Homo sapiens: one gene and its partner. The protein of the gene in region 2 interacts with the protein of the main gene of each other region in a pairwise test. Each region holds a gene or a part of one and is shown on either strand. Other genes may lie near its edges.

What was found.
Region 1: the proteins of MMRN2 (region 2) and RHBDD2 interact in binary tests that used the Homo sapiens proteins (3 or more experiments, as listed by UniProt).

What each region holds. Positions count from the first base shown.
Region 1 is NC_000007.14:75,881,529-75,892,106, reverse strand, and holds the end of RHBDD2 (rhomboid domain-containing protein 2), read right to left. Parts: intron 10,279-10,578; coding exon 9,871-10,278; intron 8,410-9,870; coding exon 8,259-8,409; intron 4,116-8,258; coding exon 3,758-4,115; 3' UTR 3,181-3,757; downstream 1-3,180.
Region 2 is NC_000010.11:86,938,464-86,949,041, forward strand, and holds part of MMRN2 (multimerin-2 precursor), read right to left. Parts: intron 7,227-10,578; coding exon 7,098-7,226; intron 7,014-7,097; coding exon 6,907-7,013; intron 6,806-6,906; coding exon 6,725-6,805; intron 5,973-6,724; coding exon 5,799-5,972; intron 5,666-5,798; coding exon 3,854-5,665; intron 1-3,853. UniProt on the Homo sapiens protein: Extracellular matrix protein that plays significant roles in the vascular system and is required for the maintenance and stability of blood vessel.

The DNA of each region.
Region 1 (10,578 bases), on a different chromosome or scaffold from region 2:
TCAGGACGCAGAGCACCAAGCAATAAGCATGGGTGGGGCCTCCCAAGCCCACGCTGTCCTTGTGCAGATGTCCAGGGCAACAAACATTTATTGAGCACCTGCTGTTTGCATCACCCGTGCCATGCTCCTGCAGCCACTTTGTCATGTTGGGTGGGCGTGCTTGGCCCATTCCCTCCTGGCTCTCTGTTCTCCCTGTCCACCTGGAAGCTCTTCACCTGCTTCTCTTCTTGGATTCCTTCAGGTCTCAGCAGAAATGTCACCTTCCCAGGGAGGCCATCCTTGACCACTGGATTTACAGTTGCTGCTCTTTTTTTTTTTTTCTGTGACAGAGTCTCACTCTGTTGCCCAGGCTGGAGTGCAGTGGTGCGATCTCAGCTCACTGCAACCTCCACCTCCTGGATTCGAGTGATTCTCCCGCCTCAGCCTCGCGGGTAGCTGGGACTAGAGGCGCCCGCCACCACGCCCGGCTAATTTTTTTTTTTTTTTTTTTTAGTAGAGATGGTTTTTCACTATGTTGACCAGACTGGTCTTGAACTCCTGACCTCAAGTGATCTGCCCGCCTCAGCCTCCCAAAGTGTGGGATTACAGGCGTGAGCCACTGTGCCCGGCATGTTCTTTAAATGAAAGAATGATTCAGTAAACAGATGGGCGTGTGAAGGAATGACATAGCTCAACCCACGGCTCCCACAGCCTTTATCTTGCCTTGTAATTACCTGCAAATCAACTTCCTACACGGTACTCAGTTCCTTAGAGCAGGGGTTCGCAACCTCAGGGACCACCAACTGGCACCAGTCTACCCATCTGTCACTGTCTCCCATCACCCCCAGATGGGACCCTCTAGTTGCAGGAAAACAAGCTCAGGGCTCCCACTGATTCTGCATTATGGTGAGTTGTATAATTATTTCATTGTATATTAACAATGTAATAATAAAGTGCACAATAAATGGAATGCACTTGAATCATCCTGAAACCATCCCCATACCTGTCTGTGGAAAAATTATCTTCCACGAAACCGGTCCCTGGTGCCAAAAAAGTTGGGGACCACTGCCTTAGAGTATAAGGGCAAGCCTTTCTTCTGATGTCCGCGCTGAGGAGCAGAGCCTACCTGAGGTTTGCAGAGCGAGCAGGGCATGAATCTGCTTCTCTGCTGCCCTCCGCCAACCGAGCAGGGAAACTGATAATGTCTGGAAGCTTCTCTGGCCGCTGTGGGTCCTGCCCTGTCTGGGGATGGGAGGGGAGGGGTTTCCAGCATGTTGGGGGTAATGCTTTCACTTATGCTTAATGAGCTGTGCTCTCCATCCTCCTAACAGCCAGAGGACATGGTTAGTACCCTCCCACCCTCCCTCCACAGCCCCCCTCTCTTTCCATGGAAGGGTTGGTCCTCAGGATCCTGCTGATCCCCAGCTTGTCAGGCCATGCTGGGCTGGGGGCCTCCTCTGCGCCCCTGAAGTGCTGCTTCGCCCCATCACAGCTTTGCAGGGCACTGAATGACAAATGTTTTTTTTTGAGAGGGAGTCTTGCTCTGTCACCCAGGCTGGAGTGCAGTGGTGTGACCTCAGTTTGCTGCAACCTCTGCCTCCTGGGTTCAAGCAATTCTCTTGCCTTGGCCTCCCGAGTAGCTGGGACTACAGGCGTGTGCCACCATGCTCAGCTAATTTTTTTTTTTGAGATGGAGTCTCACTCTGTCACTCAGGCTGGAGTGCAGTGGCATGATCTCGGCTCACTGCAACCTCCGCCTCCCTGCCTCAGCCTCCCGGATAGCTGTGATTACAGGCGCCCACCACCACGCCCGGCTAATTTTTGTAAATAGAGACAGGGTTTCACCATCTTAGCCAGGCTGGTCTTGAATTCCTGACCTCGTAATCCACCAGCCTTGGCCTCCCAAAGTGCTAGGATTACAGATGTGAGCCACTGCGCCCGGCCAATTTTTGCATTTTTAGTAGAGATGGGATTTCACCATGTTGGCCAGGCTGGTCTTGAACTCCTGACCTCAAGCGATCCGCCCACCCAGACCTCCCAAAGTGCTGGAATGACAGGCGTGAGTCACTGAGCCCGGCCTGAATGATAATTATTTTCCATTTCTTCTGCTCCAATGAGCTCCCCAAGGGCGGGCATCACCTATTCATCCGTTCATTCCACTCATATTTATTGAGTGCCAGGCCCCATGCTAGGGGCTCCCTGCGCACATGGGGCTCATCATCATTGAGCCTCCGGCTTGGCACAGAATCAGTGAATGGTTTCCGGACATGGGCATATTAGTGGATGATTTGACAGGCAAATGGGAGAAGGGGTTGGGATGGCCTCCAGAGCTTCCAAAATGCACGTGAGGGTGAGAAAGGGTCCCACTGTGAGCTGACTCCAGGCTGTGTTGTGCATTGTGGCCAGACTAAGGAAAAGTCCCAAGGAACAAAGAGATTTAAAAACCAGGGCCACACACAGTGGCACACCCTCTCACCCCAGCGCAGGCCCCTTCTTGCTCATGTCTGAGGCCCCCCCAGGCGTGGGCCCGTCACGGCCCCACCCTCACCAGGCTGGATGGGCTTGGGGTTCTGTCTTATACATGTCCAAAGACCTAAAACCTATCAGAAAGCCAGTCTAGAATGGGCCATCCAGCTCCTGGGATAAATGAAGGCCACGTGTTACTAGGTCCACAAAACACCAGGCAGCTGGCATGCCTTCTCAACACAGCCTGCCGTGAGGAGCCCCAGCTGTCCTCAAGGGCTGGCCAGGTGAGTGACAGCTCAGCCACACTCATCAGTGCCCTGCACTGTCTCATAGAGGCCCCCCGCCCCTCACTCCTGGTTCCTGGTCAACATGGCCAACAGGAGACACTGGTGGTAAAGCCAGCGTCTTCTCCCGTCTTGCTTCAGGGACATCGCCAGCAGTGCCCATGTCCTTCTTGGCACAGCCCTGCCAGCAGCCCTCCTAACTGTAGTCCCAGCTTCTGGGCTCTGGCAACACCCCTCTCTCTCAGGGCAGCAGTGGCTCCTGCTGGTACCCATCTCAGTTGCCTGCTCCCCACGAGACCCCCATTCCTGACCCACTGGGCCCTGGTCACCTGCCTGACCTGGCCCTGGTGCATCTCTCCTCTCTGCCGCCACACCACACATTGCCACTGCCCAGATCTCAGCGCACTCCCTCTTCCCCAGCCAGACCACAAAGGAAGCACACGCCAGCACGGCAGGTCAGAGGCTGTTTCTTTATACAAAGGCAGACAACATGGACACCTCAGCATGCTGCTGCAGTTCATGGGGGCCCATCCCACCGCTTCTGGGGAGAGGAATCGGGGTGGGGGCGCCCGCAGCAGGGGAGAGACACTACACAGGCCTGGGACCGCCAAGCACACCAGCTGCGAGCTCCTGAAGGGCAGACACATGGACACACGGACACTGAAACCACGAGCACGGCACAGCCACAGGGAGGAATGGTGGAGCTGGGGACAGACATCGGCAGCTACTGCCAACTGCTGCCCTCTTCTGCCACGAGTTCCTTGGCGAGGAGCCTTGTCCGTGTTACTAAAGAGCCACGTGACTTTATCTGATGGCAGAACGTCTCGCTTTCTGCATCTGTAAGCTGGGCCAGTACACCGTACTCCACAGGGCTGCCGTGAGTACAGATGAGACTGAAACAGGGGCATTGATCAAAGTACCCAACACAGAGCCTGGCACATAGAGGTGTTCAATAAGTAACTTTTGTCAGGAGACTCTTAGGGAGGACCTTCAGAAGGCCAAGTGAGATGACTTCCCTAGAAATTCTCTCAGGGCATGGGGACCCTGGAGGACTCCTTGGAGCCTGCAGCCCCTGGTGTGCCCAAGGCCCCAGAATACACCGTGCCAGGGCTGTTCACAGGCGTGGGGGGCTGGATGCCCAGGGAGGTGCCCGCAGAAGCTGGGTAGACACTGGAGGAGGTGGGGTTTGGACCAAAGTGGTTCTGCACATAGCACAGGCCGGAGGCAGGCTGGTACGGAGGCAAGGTGGGCATGTGCCCGGGGGTGCAGGAGGGCCAGGAGGCCAGCTTCTGACCACTGGCGTGCTGCGTCTGGGACACAGGGTGGCTTGGGGACAGGTGAGGGTGGCAGCTCTGTGTGGGGTAGGAGCCAGGCACCGGGTTCAGTCTGGAATGGAACAAGAGAGAAAATGGTCCTTCAGCGAGTCTTGGCAAGGTCATGGCATCTTGTGCTTGAGGTTGCCCCCGCTTTCTAGTACAACATGCCTTGGATGTTTTCTGTGACTTGCTCTAAGTACCAAGTGGGAGAAAGGTTAACCTCAACCAATCAGACCACAGATGCCCAGGGAGGGTGGGGCCAGTTGCAGTCCTGCAGCAAGGGAGTTGTATGAAAGGACACTGGACCTGCCACTGAGACCACCGGAGGGGTGACCTGCTCACAGCAGCTTCTAAACCAGATGGAGCGTTGGGACCAGGTCACAGCTGCCAGTGCCTGTGTGGCTGGCTCGACAATTCTGCCCAAAGAGAACGGATTCAGGCTGGGCATGGTGGCTCACACCTGCAATCCCAGCACTTTGGGAGGCCAAGGCGGGTGGATCATCTGAGGTCAGGAGTTCGAGACTAGCCTGGCCAACATGATGAAACCCGGTCTCTACTAAAAATTAAAAAAAAAAAATTAGCCAGGTGTGGTGGCAGGCGCCTGTAGTCCCAGCTACTCAGAAGGCTGAGGCAGGAGAATCGCTTGAACCTGGGAGGCAGAGGTTGCAGTGAGCCAAGATTGTGCCACTGCACTCCAGCCTGGGTGACAGAGCAAGACTCTGTCTCAAAAAAAAAAATTGTTTTTTTTTTTTTTTAATTAGCCAGGTCTGGTGGCATATGCTTCTAGTCCCAGGTACTTAAGAGGCTGAGGTAGGAGGACTGCTTAAACCCAGAAGTTTGAGGCTGCAGTGAGTTATGACTGTGCCACTGCACTCCAGCCTAGGCAACAGAGCAAGACCATGTGTAAAAAAAAAAAAAAAAAAAAAATTATCTATCAACAAGAGCCTCTGAGGAGACAAGCTGTCCAAACGGCCATCTTGCTGACAAAATAAACATGCGTGTCATGACATGGCCCTGGACCCACTGTCAGGCTGCCTGAAACACAATATTCTGAGTGTCTGCAGCAGGCACCAGACCTGAGGGACTGGACTCCATGTCACGTGGGGAACACAGAAGGAACACCATCTTCCTCTTAAACCCTAAGATCTGCCTGTCACAGTGAGGCAGGATCAGACCTGGCACTGGGTGTGGCAGTGTCTGTGAGGCTGATTGCAATTCAGCATGGAAGAACTCTTTTTTTTTTTTTTTGAGACGGAGTCTCGCTCTTTTGCCCAGGCTGGAGTGCAGTGGCGCGATCTCGGCTCACTGCAAGCTCCACCTCCCAGGTTCACACCATTCTCCTGGCTCAGCCTCCCGAGTAGCTGGGACTACAGGTGCCCACCACCGCACATGGCCAATTTTTTGTATTTTTAGTAGAGATGGGGTTTCACCGTGTTAGCCAGGATGGTCTCGATCTCCTGATCTCGTGATCCACCCGCATCAGCCTCCCAAAGTGCTGGGATTACAGGTGTGAGCCACCGCGCCCGGCCCTTCAGCATGGAAGAACTTTCTCATCAGGGCCAGTCTTGGAGAGTGAGCTCTTGTATGTGAGATACAGCTGGAGACCACCATCAGCTATTACAGAGGGGATTCCTTGGTGACAGACAGTTCTCCAGATTCAATGAGAACAACTAAAACCCACAAAACACCTAGTCCTAAATGTACAGTCTCCCCCACATTGAGACCCCAGGAATTACTTGCCTGAAGCAATAATGCGGTGAGTCCGCATTTCTGTTTTCCCAGCAGCCCTCCTGGCCTTTTAGAAAAATAGTCCAAGGGCTCTGAGCTGTTGACAGCTGGGAGCACCTCTTGGAAGAAGCTCTAAGGGCAGCTTCCTATTCAACAAAAACCCCACATCCAGGCCAGCGTGCAGGGGAAAATTTACTCCACAGCTGGTGGCGGGCCAAAAAGGGCCAAGGACCAAGCACCTTGCCTTCTGATACACTTTGGATGTTTCCTCTGCTCCAAATCATGTGCTGAAATGGATCTTTAGCCGGGTATAGTGGCACGCGCCTATAATTCCAAGTACTTGGGAGGCTGAGACAGGAGAATCACTTGAACCCAGGAGGTGGAGGTTGCAGTGAGCTGAGATCACGCCACTGCACTCCAGCCTGGGCCACAGAGTGAGACTCCATTTCAAAAAAAAAGAAACGTGATTCCCAGTGTTCCAGCACTAGAGGTGGAGCTCAGTGGGAGGCGTCTGGGTCACGGGGGCAGACCTTGCGTGAGTGGCTTGGCTTCTTCCCCGTAGTAATGAGTTCTCCCTCTGAGTTTAGGTAAGAGCTGGGTGTTTAAGAGCCCAGCACCTCCCTCCCTCTCTCAATGTGTGGTGCCGCCTCCCCTTGCCCTATGATTGGAAGCTGCCTGAGGCCGGTGCCATGATCCTAGTGTAGCCTACGAAGCCATGAGCCAAATAAACCTCTTTTCTTATAAATGACCCAGGCTCAGGTATTTCTTTATAGCAATACAAAATGGATGAACACGCCTTTCCCAGCGAGCTCCTTTTTTGGGGGGAGGACCACTGAAGGAAAGAAAAAATCCTACACTGTGAGGTCTCAGCATGGACAGAAACCAGCGGAGAACTCAGAGGCAGGAGGCACTGGGAACAGGGGAGAGGGAGGGAGGTGGCCTCCTAAGCAGGGGACGTGCTTCCAGATGGCCCCTCTCCTGACTCTGTTACCTGGAAACAGAGTGGGTGAGAAAGACCCTTGTCTTCTTTGGGCCTCCTCTATAAAATGAAGCAGCCAGGCCACACAAGCTCTGGCGGCTTACCAGCACTTTCCATCTGTGAGTTAATCAGCCAACTGGAAAACAGTAAACCTCACCAGAAAACCTGGGCTGGGCCACCTCCTAAGCAGCCTAGTTGGCTGTGTGGACTGTCTGCACCTTTTTTTTTTTTTTTTTCTTGGGAGACAGTGTCTTGCTCTGTCAACCAGGCTGGAGTGCTGTGGTGTGATCTCGGTGCACTGCAACCTCCACCTCCCAGGTTCGAGTGATTCTCCTGCCTCAGCCTCCTGAGTAGCTGGGATTACAGGCAACCACCACCACGCTTGGATAATTTTTGTATTTTTAGCAGAGATGGGGTTTCATCACGTTGGCCAGGCTCGTCTCAAATTCCTGACCTTATATGATCTGCCCACCTTGGCCTCCCAAAGTGCTGGGATTACAGGCGTGAGCCATCGCACCCAGCCCTATCTGCACTTATCGAGGCTATTGTGTGTCACAGCCCAGGCTGACCTGCAGCAGGTATGTGTCTAATGTCAATTAGATGGGGGCCCTCCTGCCCAGCCTATCTACAAGTCACTCAGGATCACATGTTAAGTGTCCTCAAATGCCTTCCCTTTCCTGCTGTTGCTACTTCAGAAGCAGTTGTGCAGAATCCAGAATGCTCAGAAGACATCTGTGCATTATTTTCCAATCTGCCGCACCTCATTTCTTTATCACTTACGGCAATAAACCAGCCACACCCTCTGCATGCCCTGGAGTTGCTTTAATAATAAGGTTAGGCCAGGCTCAGTGGCTCACACCTGTAATCCCAGTACTTTGAGAAATCAAGGAAGGATGGATTGAGACCAGGAGTTTGAGACCAGCCTTGGTAACACAGTGGAGACCCTGTCCCTACAAAAAATTTAAGTTAGCTAGGCATGATGGTATGTGCCTGTAGTCTCAGTTACTTGGGAGGCTGAGGTGGGAGGATCACTTGAGTCCACGAGTGTGAGGCTGTAGCGGGCTATGATCATACCACTGCAATCCAGCCTGGGCAACAGGGCAAGACCCTGTCCTCAAATAAAAAAAAGAATAAAAAAACAGAATAAGATTTGACAGCATTTGGCCGGGGGCAGTGGCTCACGCCTGTAATCCCAGCACTTTGGGAGGCCGAGGCAGGTAAATCACAAGGTCAGGAGTTCGAGACCAGCCTGGCCAACATGGTGAAACCCCATCTCTACTAAAAATACAAAAAAATTAGCTGGATGTAGTGGTGGGCACCTGTAATCCCAGACACTGAGGAGACTGAGGCAGAAGAATCACTTGAACCTGAAGCAGAGGTTGCAGTGAGCCGAGATTGTGCCACTGCACTACAGCCTGGGTGACAGAGTGAGACTCCGTCTCAAAAAAAAAAAATAATTTTTTTTTTAAAAAAGATTTAACAGCACTTAAGAGTTCTGTCACTTACTTCCGGCTCTGGGCTGCCCTCCTCTCGGCTGAAGACCCTGAGACGTACTTGAACACGGATATCCTCCTCATCAGGCTGAAGGGGAAGGTCTGATCGAGCTTCAGTGCCACTCGCTCTGAGAGGTCGATGGAATAGCAGTAGGTGAGGCCATCTGAGGTTGGCGTGTTAAGTGAAACTGGAGGCAGCAAAGGGAGGAGGGCCGAACACTCCCCGGGGAGAACACAGGTTCCCACTCACTCTACAGAAGCCTTCATGCTTAGCACGCTGCACACTCTGGCTGGAGTTTGCAGCTCAGGGGAAACCCAGAGCCAAAGGTTTGTTTTTTTTTTTGAGATGGAGTCTCACTCTAGCAGCCCAGGCTGGAGTGCAGTGGTGTGATCTTGGCTCACTGCAAGCTCCGCCTCCCAGATCACACCATTCTCCTGCCTCAGCCTCCAGAGTAGCTGGGACTACAGGTGCCCGTCACCACACCCAGCTAATTTTTGTATTTTCAGTAGAGACAGTGTTTCACCATATTGGCTAGGCTGGTCTTAAACTCCTGACCTCGTGATCTGCCTGCCTCAGCCTCCCAAAGTGCTAGTATTACAGGCGTGAGCCACTGCGCCTGACCCCAGAGCCAAAGGTTTCTACTCACTGTGCCTCACCGGGAATGAATGCGCCCAGCAGCAGGGGGTATTAATGCTGTCCCTTCTCCTACACCCATGTGTGCCACCACTTGCACCCTTCTAGCCACTGCAGTCAGTCAGAAGCCAGGACATGCCTCTGCTGGTGTAGCAGGATAAGGCAGGAGGCTGTACCAGTATCATCCTGAGGGACTAACACCTCGTCCTTTTATCTCAAATAGAGGGCACCTGCCTCAGTGCGACCATGTGAGCTTCATGTGGGCCTCTCTGGCTGTGCTTCCTCCATACCCTGTCACCATCCCCAGCAACTTGGTGGTATCCTGGTCGTCTGACCTAAGTCACCCACCACTGATTAGGCAGCCACAAAGATTCAGCCTTTGAATAAAGGCTATGCTAGACTCTCCCGAAAAGAGCTTAGAAACAAACCTCAAGTTTCAAGCCAATCTTCAAGTAAGTTAACCGCCTATCAGAACAAAAGTCAACATTTTTTAAAGGAAAACAACAAAATCTAGAGCCCCTAATACAGCATTCAGTGTCTAGCATAAAATAAAAAATTACCAGATATGAAAAAAAAAGTAAAAAAAAATTATGATCAGATATGACTCGGCCACGGTGGCTCACACCTGTAATCCTAGCACTTTGGGAGGCCACGGTGGGTAGATCACCTGAGACCAGGAGTTCAAGACCAGCCTGGGCAACATGGTGAAACCCTGTGTCTACTAAAAAGAAAATATAAAAATTAGCCGGGTGTAGTGGTGCACACCTGTAGTCCCAGCTACTCAGGGGGCTGAGGCAGGATTGCTTGAGCCCAGGAGGCAGAGGTTGCAGTGAGTTGAGATCCTGCCACTGCACTCCAGCCTGGGTGACAGAGACTCTGTTTCGAAAAAATACAAAGTAAGCCCAATTTTATCTACTTGACACCCCAGACCCTCCAGCCTGGTTCACCCTTTGACATGCGTTGTTCTATAGCTCTCTGCTAGGAAGGATACAGGCCAGCCCGATGGACAGCCCGCAGACATTACTGAGGAAAGAGGTCTGGGGAATGAGCCACGAGGCACCCAGCAGGAGCCACGGAACCAGGACTGAGGGCACAACCATGCCAAACACCAGGGCCCGCCTCATCCGAGAACGGACGGTGGTGACTCCCAGCATGGCAAAGGCCACTGGGGTGAAACCTCTGGCATCCTCCACTTCCCCCAGCTTTGACAGTGATGACACAGCCTCGAATGACAGGAAGATGATAGCGGAGAAGATGGCGAAGATCACGGTGAAGAAGCAGTGGCGGACGGTGCCCACGGTTCTCTCGAAATTGCCAGCAAAGCGCCAGATGATGATAGCGCCGCAGAGCAGGGAGATGGGATTCTCGTAGACAAAGATGTAGGTTACCAGCCTGTAAACTGCAGAGGGAGTCGGGTTAGAGGCCTGGCGGCGGGTTGCTCCCAGGAGGGAAGCCAGGTTATAAGCCGCCTAGGAAAGGCAGAGAGCCCCCCTCCGTGACAGAGAAGTGAGAGCCAGTGAGTCGCAGCAGGAGGCAATACAAGCAGTGCGTTCAACAATGAAGGACCCAGAGCCTCAAAGGAGAGGCATGAATATCTAATCCCTACACTTCCCCAGGCCTGGTGCAACTCTTAGCGGTAACTGACTTCCAGAGGGAAAAAAATAATACTTTTCGGTAGAGGGCAGTCTCTGAATTTGTA
Region 2 (10,578 bases):
GGGTGTACAAACAGCCAGGAAGAAGCCAGTCCTGCTGCCTGGACAGCATGGTTGGGCAGCTGGGGACAGGGTCATGAGATGGCACAGGAAAGGTAAGTCCTACTTGGGTCCTGGCTGTGACACTGGCCTTGGCACCAACGAGGTCATGTCCACCATGGGGTTCCTCAACTTGCTCCCTCTGTAGGGGTTTAAAACAAGGTCCCCATTTCTTAGGTGATAAAACCAAAGCCTTCAGAGGAGCAGTTTGCTGAGCAATTACTGACTTGGGTCCCGGAACTCAAGCCTCAGCTCTTTGACTCCCAATCCAGCAAGCCTTTGTGAATAAAAAAATGTTGCTTTTCTCTAGTTCTGGAAGATTTTCTGAGAATTAGACAGCTGAGAATAGCTTTCTCATTTGTGTTCAGATTGTGTCAAATCAGCCGGGCGCAGTGGCTCACGCCTGTAATCCCAGCACTTTGGGAGGCCAAGGCGGGCGGATCACCTGAAGTCGGGAATTCGAGACCAGCGTGACCAACATGGAGAAATCCCATCTCTACTAAAAATACAAAATTAGCCAGGCGTGGTGGGGCATACCTGTAATCCCAGCTACTTGGGAGGCTGAGGCATGAGAATCGCTTGCACCCGGGAGGCGGAGGTTGCCGTGAGCCGAGATCACGCCGTTGCACTCCAGCCTGGGCAACGAGAGTGAAACTCCGTCAAAAAAAAAAAAAAAAAAAAATGCCGGGCGCAATGGCTCACGCCTGTAATCCCAGCACTTTGGAAGGCCGAGGTGGGCGGATCACGAGGTCAGGAGATAGAGACCAGCCTGGCCAACATGGTGAAATCCCGTCTCTACTAAAACTACAAAAATTAGCTGGGCATGGTGGCAGGCGCCTGTAATCCTAGCTACTCGGGAGGCTGAGGCAGGAGAATCGTTTGAACCCGGAAGGCGGAGGTTGCAGTGAGCCGAGATCGTGCCATTGCACTCCACCCTGAGCGAAAGGGCGAGACTCCGTCTCAAAAAAAAAAAAAAAAAAAAAAAAAAAAAAAAGATTGTGCCCAAGTCAGAGGCCGGCGGCTGCCTCTGCAATTCCCCTAACACCCTGCAGGTGGTTCTCTTGCCTAGCCGAAGGAAGGCCGGCCCGCAGCGCCCTCTACCGGTGCTAGGCCCTCGTTCCGGCCGTTCCGTCCGGGCGCCTGCGCAGGGAGTTCCGCCGCAGAGAGAGACCCCCACCCCAACCCAGCCTTGCGCCTGACAGGCCCTAAGATGCGGGAAGGGCTGTGCAAACTCAGAGTGTGCTTCCCTGCAGGGCACACATTCAAGCCCTACAGCCTTCCTACAAACAAATAAAGGGAAATTTGGGGTGTGTGTGTGTGTGTGTGTGTGTGTGTGTGTTTGTGTGTGTGTGTGTGTGTGTGTGTGTTTGAGACAGAGTCCTACTCTGCCGCCCAGGCTGGAGTGCAATGGAGCTATCTTGGCTCACAGCAACCTCTGCCTCCCAGGTTCAAGCGATTCTCCTGCCTCAGCCTTCCAGGTAGTTGGGATTACAGGTGCCTGCCACCACACCGGGCTAATTTTTTTTTTTTTTTTGACAGTTTCGCTCTTCTTGCCCAGGCTGGAGTGCAGTGGCGCAATCTCGGCTCACTGCAGCCTCTGCCTCCCGGGTTCAAGTGATTCTCCTGTCTCAGCCTCCCGAGTAGCTGGGATTAGGCGCCCGCCACCACACCCGGCTAATTTTGTATTTTTAGTAGAGATGGGGTTTCACCATGTTGGCCAGGCTGGTCTTGAACTCCTGACCTCAAGTGATCCACCCGCCTCGGCCTCCCAAACTGCTGGGATTATAGGCATGAGCCACTGCGCCCGGCCTGGAAATTTGTTTTTAAGAACAACATTTTTTTGAAATAAATATCGTCGTGGTAAACACATTTCCAAACCGTGGGGCAAATTCTGAAAGTCATCAGCATATTGAAGCCTTGCACCACGCACGAGAGGAAACAAGAGAGAAGTGTCAGTGTCGGTGGACACAACCTGAACCCTGAAAATGCTGGGGAAATGGGAAAACGTTGACTGCGTTCCTACATGAGGTAAGCCTCGTGCTAGGTATTTGGTAAACGCAGCAGTCTTCATAACAAAACTTTGACATGGGTAGGGATTCTGCCATTTTACTGAGGAAGAAACAGACAAGTGATGCCAGAGCCTGGGTGCTTCCCACTGCTCCACATTGCCTCTTGGGCCATAGGGAGGGTCAGCTGGGGCAGGGGCTGCCTGGGACGGGACCTTCAACAAGGCCTTGGACTTGCCACACGCCAGGCTGCACATGGCCAAGATGGTGGCCTTGTACTTAGCCCTGTGTCTGGGTGGGGAGAGGCCACAGCTCCAAGGCCAGCCTCTGGCAGAGAGAGTCACTTGAGACACAGAGCCTAGTTGTCCCCCTCCCGGGACCACACTCAGGGAGGGGATGGGAAGCTTGGTTGCACATGCCTTCAGCCTCAAAGCCAGCTCCCAGGCCCAGGGCCCTGCAGGGACCAGCCATGGAGGGCCTTCTGGAGGTGAAGAACCGGCACCCTAAAGACAGCGCTCCTCTGCTGCTCACTAGCTGTGCAAGCAGGAAACTTGTGTTTGCGCCTCAGTTTCAGGTAAGATGGAAGTGCTGATGAGTGTGTCATTGACCTGTTGGGATGGGCCATTGTGGTAAAGCCCAGGAAGGGGACTAGCACAGAGCGATGAGACAGGTTAACTGTATTTGCAGAGGGAATGAGCTCCTTTCAGGGCCCACGGCTTTCCCTGTACAGTCCACTGAGGTGTGTTCCAAGACCTTAGCAGGTGCCTGAAATCTCAGACAGTACCAAACCCTATATATACTATTTATTTTCCTCTATGTACATACCTATGCCAAAGTTTAACTTGTAAATTAGGCACAGTAAGAGATTGACAATAATAATAAAATATAAAGCAATTATAACAGTATACTGTAATAAAAGTTATATGAATGTGGTGTCTCCCTCTCTCAAAATCTTATTGTACTGTACTCACCTATTTTCTGATCGTGGTTGATGCAAGAAACTGAAATCAAGGCTGGGCACATGGCTCACACCTGTAATCCTAACACTTTAGGAGGCTGAGGTGGGCAGATTACTTGATCCCAGGAATTTGAGACCAGCCTGGGCACCATAGCAAGACCCTGTCTCTACAAAAAGTACAAAAATTAGCTAGGCATGGTGACACATGCCTGTAAGTCCTAGCTACTCTGGAGGCTGAAGTGGGAGGATCAGCTGAGCCTGGAGAGGTCTAGGCTGCAGTGAGCCATGATCCCACCACTGTACTCAAGCCTGGACGACAAAGTGAGACCCATCTTAAAAAAAAAAAAAAAAAGAAAAGAAAAAGAAAAAAAAAACAAAAAAAAAACTAAAATCATGGAAAATGAAACAGAACTAAGTGGGGCTGCAAGTGGCCACAGTCCCTATCCACATTCTTCCTAGATACAGTGGCTTAAACGCACATGGGAATGAAGGGGGTGAGGTGAAGAGATGAGATGGGGGGACTTGAAGGCTGCCCTGGCAGGGCAGGAGGCGATGCCCTCTCTGTAGCAGGAGCAGTAGGCGGCACTATTGTGCCTGTGGCCTCCAGGCTATGCCGCTCACGGGCTCTGGCACTAGCAGGTGGTTCTTGTGACTTCTGTCTCCCCATAAGCCAGGTAGCTTGAGAGACCCACACCCCTGAGAAGCAGGTGGGCCAAGGGGAAGGTGGACCTAGTAGGGGTGACGGATGGCCATCCTGTTCTCTTTCTTCCTGGCCCTCTTGGAGGCAGAAGAGCTGCCGGCAGCCGGCCCTGGCCTCCTAGGCTCGTCCAGTCTCCCCAGCCCAGGAACTCACCTGCCTCCCAGAGCGCCGCGCCCAAGGCACCTGGCACAGGCCCTGTGACCCGTATGTCCACCAAAGGCTCCGCTTCCTTCTTGTCCCTCTTCCGGGGAGCTTCCAGGTCTTTCTGCTGCTTCTTCCCTTTCCTGCTCAGCATGGTCTGCAGCTTCCCCAGGTCCAGGCTGACGTTGGCTTCCATGAGCCCTTGGAAGTTCCCAAAGAGGCTGTGGAAGAGCCGCTGGTGCTGCTCCAAGCTGCGCTGAGTGGCGAAGAGTGCGTTGTGGAGGCCGTGAAGGGAGGCGTTGAGGGAGGCGGCCCCGGCCCCGGCCTCGGCCTCGCAGCACCGCCCGACATTCTTGACGTCGTTGCTCAGGCTCTGGAGCTCCCGCGCCAGCCCGGCCAGGGCGGTGGTGGCGGCCTCCTCGCGGCCCGCGTCGTGGCTGGGCTCCAGGTGCTCTGCCGGCCGCGGGGGCTCCGAGGCCTGCTCCAGGGCCGTCACTCGGGCGGCCAGCTCGTCCCAGCCGAGCGCCTGCTCCTGCAGCCCGCTAGCGGCGTCCTGCAGGGCCACGCGGATCTGCTCGTAGCTCAGGGGCAGCGGTCCCGGCGTCTGCTCAGACATCTCCTCCAGCACCTCCTCCCCGAAGAGCGCGGCCAGCACCGCCTCGTGCCGCAGCGCGTCCTCCAGCAGGGCGGCGAAGGCGCTGTGCAGCTGGCGCACCTCGTGGCGGGCCTCGGCCGCGGCCGCCTTCAGCGCGCCCACCTCGTCATCCAGCGCCTGCACTTGGCTCCGGAGCCGCGACGTGGCCGCCCGCGCCCGCTCGCCCTCCGCTTTGTGCGCGTCCACGGCCAGCGACACGGCGTCCACGGCGTTCTGCAGGGCCTGCAGGGAGGAGCCGTCCAGCTGCCGCCGCTCGTCCAGGCTCACCTGGGTCTCCTCCAGGGCACGCGTGGCGTCCCTCTGGCCCTCCCGGATGACGTCCAGGTCTAAATAGAGCTTCTGGCAATTGCAGTCCTTCACGTACTTGATGAGGTCGGCATGGCCACCCTGCAGGTGCTGCAGCGTGAGGTTGAGCTCCAGGAGCTGCCGCTCCACCTCCTCCTTGTTCTCCTCCATGATCAGAGACTTCTCCATCAGGATCACGCGCAGCTCACGGAGCGCCGTGTGGTTCACCTGCAGCTCCTCCACCTGCCGCTCCACCTTGCTAATCTGATCGAAAGTCTCGTCCGATTCGGAGTACAGTTCCTTGATCTCATCCACGTGCCGGGTCAGGGTGGCCCTCATGTCCTCCAGGGTGTACTGCAACTCCTCCTCCCTGCGGGCCGTGGTCATGTGCAGCTCTGAGAGGTTCCTCTGCAGCTGGCCCAGCCTGGCCTGCAGGCTGTCCGGCTCAGGCCTTGCCCCAGCCCCAGGCGTTGCCAACACCAGACTGCCATTGGTCCCTGGGGCCTCCTGAGCCTTGTGCAGCCTCTTCAATTTGGTGTCCACATCGGCTTGGAGCTCTGAGATCGAGCGGTGCAGGGTAAAGTGCTGGGCGTGCAGGCGGTCCTCCACGTCCTGTCGCAGCTGACCCACTCTCTGAGTGTTCTCCTGGACCTTGGCCTCAAATTTGGCACCAAGCTCCTGGAAGTCAGCCCTGGCCACGGCACTGTCCTGGACTCTGGAGATGGCCTGGCGGTTGGCCTCCACGTCAAGAGACAGGTTTCTTATGGCCTGGGTAAGGCTGTGCAGGCTTTGGTTAAAGCTCCTCCAGATGGGGCTGAAATGCACTTGTAGGAAGGTGTCCACGTGGGGTAGCAGCACCTGCTCCAAGGATCTATCAGGGAACTCTGCAACAGACATGTGGTGTGACACAAGCCCTGCAGGAGCAGACACTCCTCCCAGGCTGGGACCAGCGGGGTCCTCCCCTCCTCCCCTCAATGTGACCAGGCTCTTCCTCAGCCCCTAGAGCCTGCCACTCACCGTGCCCTGTTTGATTTGCTTCCATCACTGCAGCTGTGAGGTTACCAGGCAGGGCTTTCCACAGGCCTGGCAGGCTGTCTGCCACCCGGTGCACATCATTCTGGAGATCTCCCAGCAGATGTTCCTGCTGTTCCTGTTGCACCTCAACCTCATTGATCACTGCAGCAAGGTGGCCTAAATACACAGCAGACATAAATGTCAAGGGCTAACTCACCAGGCCTGGGAAGATCACAAGGTTCAGAGAAGGAGAGTTGAAGGCTGAGAGCAGGGAAGTTAGCTGCTGATGTCCTCTGAGCAGGAGCTTAGAAGCCTTAAACCCCTGGAGGGCAAATGCATAGCAAGTGAGCCCTCACCCTGCCTCCTACACCTACAGCAGACATGACTAATCAATCATGGTACACTCCCCTCCTCAGCACATGCACATGGCCTCACAACTTCATTCTTGGCAGCCCTTGTCAATAAATACTTCACCACATAATGAAACTCATTTACTTTCTCAATCTTGGGCCCAGCCTTAAAGGGCCCTGCTGCAAATGGTGTCTCTTGGTGGGTTTCCTGTGCTGACTCCAAGACCAAGGACAGCATGACTTCCTGGCTCTGGTTAGGGCTGTGGGAAAGGGTGAGAATGCTTTTTCCAGGCACAAGGGCTTGTGTGGTTCAGCGGGGCAAGGAAAGTGCCAGATGAACCAGTCCTTCCCAGAAGATGGGGTGAAGGAAAAGGGTGTGTGTGCTTGGCCAGTAGGCCGCTGGGGGCCCTGTGAGCCTGGCCTTCAAGGTGGGAGGTGGTACAGGCCACAGAGCAGGCCTTGCTGATTCTGGAGGCAAGGTTTCCCTGAAATGGCACTGCTGTATCACAGGAAAAAGGGCCAGCTGGCTACATGGGCCCCACCAGCCTGCCTGCCTTCCCCTTCCGGAAAGCAACACACCAGGTTTGAAGCTGACTGGTCCATCCTGAGGTTCCTGGTGGCTGTCACCAGGATCTGCAGGCTCAGGGATTGCCATGGAATCTGCAGAAGAAAGCATTAGTTATTGACCCCAGTGGTCAGAGGAGCTGCTTGACCTTGGGGATCAGAGGTCAAGGGGGGAAGGGGGCCGCAGGGAGCCCTACCGTGGTGCTCGCAGTTGGGGCCCGTGTAGCCAGGGCAGCACCTCCAGGCCAAAGAGGTCAGCACCTTCTGCTTGACCTGGTACACTGGCTTGTGGGCCATGCGGTACCTGGAAGAGGAGAAGGGCTGGCTCAGTGATTCCAGGGAGGGCCCGCTCCAGGCCTGGGCAAATGGCCCACCCTCCCCTACTCACATGACTTTGACTTTCTGGCAGTCTGGAGCTCCCTGCGGACACGGCTGCTGCGAGTGGATGAGGAATTTCTCTGTTTTGCAAAGAGCTAGTAAGGTGACCAGCTTGGACATTGGGTAGGGGCACCAGTTACTGGAAAACAAGCCAGAGGAGAAGGCTGCTGAGCCACACCCAGGTCAACAGGGGGTGCCAGTGCAGAGCCACCGGTCCTCGCCTCCTGCCGGAGCAGTGCTGGGATTCTGGAATCCATTATCCTGAGAAGAGAGCCTTCCGCATTATTCATCCCTGGGCTCCAGAGCAAATGTTTCACAATCCCTACCTGCAAAGAGGGCACCTGCTCCACCACCTTCCCGAAGCCTCCCCGAGCCAGCAGAGAGGCTGAGAAACCCACCACAATCTAGAACTGTGAAAAGCAGCTCCAGGGTGATGATTGTTTTAGCCAACAAAACTAACAGCCAGAGTGTGGGGAAAACACCGTGTGCACTGCAGCTGTCTGCATGGATTCCCTTTGGTGAGGTTAGCCACAGAGCCAGAAAGCTCTCGCTGTTTCTCCTGCTACCAACGTGCAGCTGGGGCTGGAGAATCCTGGGTTCGAATCCCTCACACTTTCTGGCTGTGTGACCCTGAGTGAGGCACTTAGGGAGCTTCTCTTTCCCCATCTATACAATGGCGATCGTAATGCCCTCCTTTAAGTGGGCAGAGAAGCACCAGGTGCCTGGCTCCTGACAAGCGTTCTGTGAACACAGCTCCACTGCCCCATTCCAGCTGCCCTGGCAGCCTGCCCAGTTGCTACTTACATGAGGGACCAGCTCCCTGGCCATGCCCATTAGGACCATTCTAGAAAGGGACTTTCAAACAGTTGTCCTAAGGAAAGGTAAGCAGCTGGGTGGAGCAGTGTCCTCTCTGGGATGGCCACCGCATCAAGGTCATGCAAGGTGGTTGGGGGTCACACTCAGCATCCCGCACACCTGATAGGTAGCCCTTCCATCCTGGCCCTTCACCAGCATGTACTGTGGTGGTCCCAGGAGCGGGGGGACACTCATGCTGACAGAGCCCCAGTTCACAGACCCAGTGGCTGACTCCATGGGGTCAGTGGCAGTGGTCAGAGAGCCCTTCCCCAGGCAGCCAGCTCCCAGAACAGAGCTCGTCAGAGTTGAAAGTGGCAATGATCTCTGTGGCACAGTACAGCTCAGCACCTCTTGGGTGCCGGGTGCTGCACTCAAGCTCAGGGTGTGGATGTGGAGGTGCAGACTTTCCCTTCAGGATCCCCAGGGAGAGCGGGCACTCTTAGAATGGGTGAGAAGTGCTAGGATCTGCAGAGACTTTCAGGAGAAGGAGCTAATGGGGCTGTGTCTTAAGGCCAGAAAGTCGGATGAGGCACCAGATGTGACAGGGGTGCAAGAGGGTGAGGAAGGGGCTGCAGAAGGAGGCTGGGATGAAGGGAGAAGCCAGACCTCAGCGGAGGAGCTGGCCCATGTCCTGAGGGCATGGGAAATCATGGAGGGGTTTCAGCAGGGAAGTGGCATGAAAGAGCCACCCTGGTCCCTGGGTGCAGAGATGATGGGAGGGCAAGACGTTGGCAGCTGTGTCCACGGTCTGGGGAGAGATGATGGCAACTTGGACTGAGTGATGGTGGACATGGGAGAAGTGGCCACATTTGTGGGCTCTTAGAAAGCAGCATTCAGAGGCCTTGGTGATGAAGTGGCTGTCAGTGCCGGGATTTTATTCTCTGGAGCCGGTCTTTGTCCTGGGGCCATCAAGCACTGTCACACAGGGGATAGTGTTGGGAAAGGCAGGGGCGGGGGATTCGAGTGACTTTTTTTTTTTTGAGACGGAGTCTCGCACTGTCGCTTGGGCTGGAGTGCAGTGGTGCAATCTCGGCTTGCTGCAACCTCCACCTCCCAGGTTCAAGCGATTCTCCTTGCCTCAGCCTCCCAAGTGGGCTGGGATTACAGGTGCCCACCACCAAGCCTGGCTAATTTTTTTTGTATTTTTAGTAGAGACGGGGTTTCACTATGTTGGCCAGGCTGGTCTTAAACTCCTGACCTCGTGATCCACCTGCCTCAGCCTCCCAAAGTGCTGGGATTACAGGCGTGAGCCACTGTACCCAGCCGAGTGACCATATTTTGAGTGCTGAGTCCCCAGCCTGCTTTACCCTCTCAGCAGCAGACTGGAAAAGTTTCTCAGGAAAATAAGCCAGCCCGAGAGGAAAAGACCCAAAGCTGCTGACAGCAGGGGTTCTCCCATAAAAATAGCCAACCAGAAGATCCTATGACAAAATGGGTAAGAAAGGAGTATTCATACACCCCAGCTTCCAGTCAGTTTCTCAGTCTTTCTCCTCTTAAGTGAGCAGACATCCAAGATTTACCCAAGAAACACTGTATTCCAAAAGAGGGCCAGGTACAGTGGCGCACGCCTGTAACCCCAGCACTTTGGGAGGCTGAGGTGGGAGGATCCTTGGAGCCCAGGAGTTTGAGTCCAGCCTGTGCAACGTAGTGAGACCTCATCCCTACAAAAAATTAGCCAGGTGTGGTGGCGCATGCCTGTAGTCCCAGCTATTCAGGAGGCTGAGGTAGGAGGATTGCTTGAGCCCAGAAGTTTGAGGCTGCAGTGAGCCATGATTATGCCACTACACTTCAGCCTGGGTGCACAGCAAAACCCTATCTCAAAAAAAAAAAAAAAAAAAGAGGTTGAAGTGGGCAAACAAAAAAATGTCAACCTGGACAAAAACTAAGACTGTGTAAGGAGAAGAGAACCACTCAAACATTTGTACTAAGATTTCCAGGTTGATAAAAGAAATTACTGCACCCAAGAAACAAGACCAGGAAGCTATGAAAAAAACAAATGAGGGGGAGATGGGAGAGGAAGCGTGAGCATTCAGAAAACAAAAAGGAACTCTTGGAAATTAAAAACGTAACAGTAAAAATGAAAATAAATTTAATGGAAACGTTAGAGGGTAAAGTTAAAGAAATTTCCCTAAAAGAGCAAACAGAGAGATGAAAATTGGAAAGAGAAAAGAAAAATAGACGACCAGTCTTGCAAATGTAACATCCAAGTAGTACAAATTTCAGAAAGAGAGAACAGATGGAGAAAATCATCAATGAAAAAAAATCAGGCCGGGCATGGTGGCTCATGCCTGTAATCCCAGTATTTTGGGAGGTTGAGGCAGGAGGATCACTTGAGCTCAGGAGTTCGAGACCAGCCTGAGCAACATGGCAAGATCTCAATCTCCACAAAAAAATTAAAAAATTAGCCAGGTGTGGTGATGTACACCTGTAGTCCCAGCTCCTCAGATGGCTGAGGTGGAAGGGTCCCGTGAGCCCAGGAGGTTGAGGCTTCAGTGAGCTATGATTGCGCCACTGGACTCCAGCCTGAGCAAAAGAGCGAGACCTTGTCTCAACAACAAACAAAAAACATATTCCAGAAGTTAAGGACTTCAATTTCCAGATTAAAAGCACCACCAGTTACCTGCAATATGATGAAA